Linked DNA regions of Homo sapiens. The protein of the gene in region 2 interacts with the protein of the main gene of each other region in a pairwise test. Each region holds a gene or a part of one and is shown on either strand. Other genes may lie near its edges.

Region 1 (3,756 bases), on a different chromosome or scaffold from region 2:
AGGAGGTTGAGGCTGCAGTGAGCCTTGACCTCACCACTGCACTCCAGCCTGAGCAACAGAGAGAGACCCTGTCTCAAAACAACAACAACAAAAACGAAAAACAACCAAAAAAGAAAGCAGCTCTTTGTAAGTGGGGTTGTATCAATTTCTTAGATGGGTAATGCCTCCATGCTGGGGCCTCCCAGGGGATGAGGAGCAGGACAGTTTGCTCCTTTGCCTCACACAGGCGAGCCCTGGGAGTGCTGGGAAAGAATTTGCTGAGGAGCCAGTGTGAACATCTGGTCTGCAGTTGAGTCTTGTTACCATGGATAACTCAGCTGATTCGTCCATTGGTCTTTTTTATGTGTATGTGGTGCTTTTTTTTTTTTTTTTTGAGACGGCATTTCGCTCTTGTTGCCCAAGCTGGAGTGCAATGGTGCGATCTTGGCTCACTGCAACCTCCGCCTCCCAGGTTCAAGTGACTCTCCTTCCTTAGCCTCCCCACTAGCTGGGATTATGGGCATGTGCCACCACGCCTGGCTAATTTTGTTCTTTTGTTTTTGTTTTTTGAGATGGAGCCTTGCTGTGTCACCCAGGCTGGAGTGCAGTGGTGCAATCTCTGGTCACTGCAACCTCTGCCTACCAGGTTCAAGCAATTCTCCTGCCTCGGCCTCCCAAGTAGCTGGGACTACAGGCATGCACCACCATGCCTGGCTAATTTTTGTATTTTTAGTAGAGACGGGGTTTCACAATGTTGGCCAGGCTGGTCTTGAACTCCTGACCTCAAATGATCCACCCGCCTCGGCCTCCCAAAGTGCTGGGATTACAGGCGTGAGCCACCACACCCAGCCTAATTTTGTATTTTCAGTAGAGACGGGGTTTCTCCATGTTGGTCACGCTGGTCTCTAACTCCCAACCTCAGGTGATCCGCCCGTCTCAGCCTTCCAAAATGTTGGGATTACAGGCATGAGCCACTGCGCCTGGCTGTGGCTCTTTTTTTGATGTGATAAGAACACTTAACAGGAGATCTACCCTCAACAAATTTTAAGTTAACTCCATTAGTCTTTTTCTTTTTTTTTTGAGACAGAGTTTCACTCTTGTTTCTCAGGCTGGAGTACAGTGGTGTGATCTTGGCTCAGTGCAACCTCTGCCTCCTGGGTTCAAGCGATTCTCCTGTCTCAGCCTCCTGAGTAGCTGGGATTACAGGCGTCCGCCACTATGCCTGGCTAATTTTTGGTATTTTTAGTAGAGACGGGGTTTCACCATGTTGGCCAAGCTGGTCTTGAACTCCTGACCTCAGGTGATCCGCCCGCCTCAGCCTCCCAAAGTGCTGGGATTACAGGCGTGAGCCACCCTGCACCCAGCCAACTCCATTACTCTTTTTCAAGTTTGCTTATTGGCAGTCAGCCCCTTGGAACTTCAAAATTAAGGAACAGATCCTGGGCTATGATGCCCTCTACCCACACCACAGGTCCAGCCCAATGTCCTGAACAGGTCCTGCTCCTTCCTTCTGACACTTTTTATTTTTAACTCCATAAGGCCTGAGCTTGGGCTGAAACAGAAACAAAATGTGCTTCATCTGATGTTCTGCTCTGTCTATATCCACAGTTTAATAACGGCGCAGGCTTTGGAGTCAGGCAAGCCTTGGTTTAAATCCTCAACTTGCCTTAGTTTATGTGACTTCTTTGAGCCTTTGTTTCTTTTACGCAAAATGGTGATAATCCCCTTCTTGCAGTGTTGTGAAAACTGAGATATGTACACAAAGCACCTAGGCCATGGTATGTGCTTAATAAATGGTGGCTGTGCTTGGTGTTACCTGACTCTCTACTCATCCTTTGGGATTTGGGTGCCTGCCTGTCCGTCCAGATGTCCTTGAGATCTCACGAGTTCTCTTTGAGTGCAAAGACCTCATTCTCATTATCAAACCAGGCTGGTCCCAGACCTCAGAGTTCAGGTCTTCATGCTGGAATCCTGGGAAGCACTGAACGTGGAGTCAGGAGATGTGGGTTTGAGTCCTGAGATTTGCTGTGACTTCATCTGGAAGATGGGGTTTTGATACCTTTTTTAAAGGTATGAAATGATGATGATGGAAGTGTTTTGTGCCTAGAAAGGCATTTGTTGCATCTCAGGCATTCTTTTCATTCTGACCACCCAGATCTGACCCTGGCTGTGCCCATCTGTAACTCTCTGGCTATCATCTTCACACTGATTGTTGGGAAGGCCCTTGGAGAAGATATTGGTGGAAAACGTAAGTTAGACTACTGCGAGTGCGGGACGCAGCTCTGTGGATCTCGACATACCTGTGTTAGTTCCTTCCCAGAACCCATCTCCCCAGAGTGGGTGAGGACACGGCCTTTTCCCATCCTGCCCTTTCCTCTGCAGCTGTTTTGCTTCCTTGTGGCCATCAGAGTTCCCTTCCCCTGGACAGTCTGGAGAAAGACAGAGGCTGGGGTTTGGGATTGAAGACCAGACCCCATCTGAGCCCTTCCTCCAGCCCTGTACCAGCTCCTACTGGCATGGCTGAGCTCAGACCCTCCTGATTTCTGCCTATTATCCCAGGAGCAGTTGCTGGCATGGTGCTCACCGTGATAGGAATTTCACTCTGCATCACAAGCTCAGTGAGTAAGACCCAGGGGCAACAGTCTACCCTTTGAGTGGGCCGAACCCACTTCCAGCTCTGCTGCCTCCAGGAAGCCCCTGGGCCATGAAGTGCTGGCAGTGAGCGGATGGACCTAGCACTTCCCCTCTCTGGCCTTAGCTTCCTCCTCTCTTATGGGGATAACAGCTACCTCATGGATCACAATAAGAGAACAAGAGTGAAAGAGTTTTGTAACCTTCAAGTGCTGTTCAGCTGCGGGGATTTAGCACAGGAGACTCTACGCTCACCCTCAGCAACCTTTCTGCCCCAGCAGCTCTCTTCCTGCTAACATCTCAGGCTCCCAGCCCAGCCACCATTACTGTGGCCTGATCTGGACTATCATGGTGGCAGGTTCCATGGACTGCAGAACTCCAGCTGCATGGAAAGGGCCAGCTGCAGACTTTGAGCCAGAAATGCAAACGGGAGGCCTCTGGGACTCAGTCAGAGCGCTTTGGCTGAATGAGGGGTGGAACCGAGGGAAGAAGGTGCGTCGGAGTGGCAGATGCAGGAAATGAGCTGTCTATTAGCCTTGCCTGCCCCACCCATGAGGTAGGCAGAAATCCTCACTGCCAGCCCCTCTTAAACAGGTAGAGAGCTGTGAGCCCCAGCCCCACCTGACTCCAGCACACCTGGCGAGTAGTAGCTGTCAATAAATCTATGGTAAACAGACAAGAGGTTAGTAAGTATTCTTTTATTGTGACAAACCCTCTCCCAGGCTTAGTCAGCTACTCCTTTCTCTGGCCAGAGAATCCCATAAGGAAATAGCCCCCACAGCCAGGGCTGCTCTGCTCAGAGGAAGGGAAGGCTGGGCTGTGGGTTTAGGAGCAGGAGAACGGGGAGGGCTGAGGAGGCCGCAGTGTACCCTGTGAGCCCAGCGGAGGTGCTGGCTCCTGAGGAACAAGCTGCTGGAGGCTAAGGACAAAAGGTGGCCAGAGTAGTGGTCCCCAGTTGCCCTCTGGAGCTGCTGGCTCTCAAGATGGCAGAGCTGGGGCTGAGGCTGAGATAGCAGCCCCAGCCCCAGGCTGGTTTTCCAGGGACAAGGCCTCTTCCACTATCTGTGCTGCCCTCTGCAGGAGGTGGAAGGCCATACAGAATGGAGCCGTGAGTATGGCCAGCCTCCAGCTCTCAGCCAGGAGGTC
Region 2 (2,553 bases):
AAGTCACTCCAGGTGATATTAAAAGTACAGTGCTAGGACTGTCTGACCCAAAATATGTGGCTGGAACCAGAAAGGATATAAGCATGGTTTGAGAAGGAAAAAAAGCTTAACAAGGGGGAATTGAGGAAGCCATTTGCAAAACTTCACAGGAAAGTTAAATGAATGAATGAATAAAATGTGATTAATAAATATGGGGGCCAGGTACAGTGGCCTGCATCTGTAATCCCAGTGTTTTGGGAGGCCAAGGCAGGAGGTGCACTTGAGGCCAGGAGTTCAAGACCTGAGCAACACAGCAAGACCCCCGTCTCTATAAAAAATTTTATAAAATTAGCCGGGCATGGTGGTAGACACCTGTAGTCCCAGCTACTTGGGAAGATGAGGCAGAGGATTGCCTGAGCCCAGGAGTTTGAGGTTATAGTGAGCCATGACTGTGCCACTGCACTCCAGCCTGGGCAACAAAGTGAGACCCTGACTCTAAAAGTAAAATTAAATTAAATTAAAAATAAGTGGATAAATATGGGTTATGCTGTGAAGCATAGAGGGAGGGATGAAGAGGGACATTTTAAGCCACTTCTCTGGCCCCAGTTTCTAACATTATTTCTAAAATGCAGGATATCTGGTTATCCCAAACCAGTTATATTTTTATTTAAATTTGCTCAAAATTTTTATTTTTAAATCTTAACAATTTCTAAAATCACACTTTTTAATTTATTTTGTATTTTTTTGAGACAGGGTCTTACTTTGTCACCCAGGCTGGAGTGCAGGGGCACAAACATGGCTCACTGCAGCCTCGACCTCCCAGCCTCAAGTGATACTCCCGCCTCAGCCTCCCAAGTAGCTGGGACTACAGGCATGCACCACCACACCTGGCTAATTTTTTTATATTTTGTTTGTAGAGATGGGGTTTCACCATGTTGCCCTGTCTAGTCTTGAAACCTTGAGCTCAAGAGATCTGCCCACCTTGGCCTCTCAAAGTGCTGGGATTACAGGCGTGAGCCGTCCTGCCTGGCCTAGTCACACTTTTTTTTTTTTTTTTTTTTTTGGAGACAGAGTTTCACTCTTGTTGCCCAGGCTGGAGTGCAATGGCATGATCTGGACTCACCGCAACCTCCGCCTCCTGGGTTCAAGCGATTCTCCTGCCTCAGCCACCCAAGTAGCTGGGATTATAGGCATGCACCACTATGCCCGGCTAATTTTGTATTTTTAGTAGAGACAGGGCTTCTCCATGATGGTCAGGCTGGTCTCGAACTCCTGACCTCAGGTGATCTGCCCGCCTCGGCCTCCCAGTGTTGGGATTATAGGCATGAGCCACCGCGCCCAGCTAGTCACGCTTTTTAGTCAAGATTTTTAAAAATGTCTGCATGCTTTTCTGAGAGCCTTACCTCTCTTGTGATTTGAAGCATTTTCTCCACCAGGCCTAAGGCTGAAGGAATGTAGTTTGCTGCCCTTCAGTCTATGACAAGGAGGTCTGTTTCCTCCAACGCCTGCCTTTTAGACAGAGTGTTGATTCACAGGGAACAGAGGCAGACCTGGGGCTGACACTGAATGAATGCTACTCACAGCAGTAAGGGGAAAAGTGGGAAAGTCTTGTTTATGCTGTGGCTGATGTGGATGTCTTTGGGGAAGAAAAATTCAGGATGAGTTTATTGAGAGCATTATTTTTGAAAGTATAAGATTTGTGATTGTAATATAAACTTAAATCACTTTGGGAATGAATTTAAAAAATCTATGTGACACAAATTAATCATCATTCTCATTGTAAATTTGGCAAAGTATTTGTAATTAGGAATATCTGTCATACTGGCACTGGGCAAATTATTCTGAATGTTCCCATGCTGAAGATTCTCTCAAAAAGGGAAAAAACAAGATCCTTTGTTTGTATAAGTACAATCAGTTTGCTGAATAAAACCTTTATAGCTACAATTATAACAGGATTGTTTCTACATTTTAGCTTGGAGATCCCATGACTACTCTGTTTTGCTAATAATAAACCAATACAGTGCTACAGAGATGTTTCTTTCATTAATGTGTTGCCTTCCCTTGCCTTGCCTTGCCTTGCCCTGCCTTGCCCTGCCTTGCCCTGCCTTGCCCTGTCTTGCCTTGCCTTGCCTTGCTTTCTTTTTTTGAGACAGGGTCTCACTCCATTGCCCAAAATGGGATGCAGTGGCATGATCTCGGTTCACTGCAATCTCTACCTCCCAGGCTCAAGTGATCCTGCCACCTCAACCTTCCAAGTAGCTGGGACCACAGGCATGCGCCACCATGCCAGGTTAATTTTTTGTATTTTTTTTTGGTAGAGATGGGGTTTCTCCATGTTGCCTAGGCTCATCTTGAACTCCTGAGCTCAGGCGATCTGCCTGCCTCGGCCTCCCAAAGTGCTGGGATTATAGGAGTGAATCACCGTACCCGGCCTCATTACTATGTTTTCTAAAGTTGTTTCATTCCTACCTTTCTCCTCGAAGCCCCTCAGCTTCAAATATTCAACAAACCATGATTCTGACCTCTATGCTTTCTTTATTCTCTTCGTAGCTCTGTGAGAGCAAAAAACTTACC

Evidence for each region. Proteins that work in one complex are often made in the same cells at the same time.
Region 1: the proteins of SLC35E3 (region 2) and TMEM234 interact in binary tests that used the Homo sapiens proteins (3 or more experiments, as listed by UniProt).

Annotation. Positions count from the first base shown.
Region 1 is NC_000001.11:32,215,730-32,219,485, reverse strand, and holds the end of TMEM234 (transmembrane protein 234 isoform a precursor), read left to right. Parts: intron 1-1,908; exon of another isoform or gene 1,909-2,049; intron 2,050-2,134; coding exon 2,135-2,227; intron 2,228-2,361; coding exon of another isoform or gene 2,362-2,519; exon of another isoform or gene 2,520-2,538; coding exon 2,539-2,633; 3' UTR 2,634-2,968; coding exon of another isoform or gene 2,969-3,076; 3' UTR 3,077-3,286; downstream 3,287-3,756. Other genes in the region: DCDC2B (doublecortin domain-containing protein 2B), read right to left, coding at 3,589-3,684.
Region 2 is NC_000012.12:68,779,462-68,782,014, forward strand, and holds the end of SLC35E3 (solute carrier family 35 member E3), read left to right. Parts: 3' UTR 1-2,007; downstream 2,008-2,553. UniProt on the Homo sapiens protein: Putative transporter.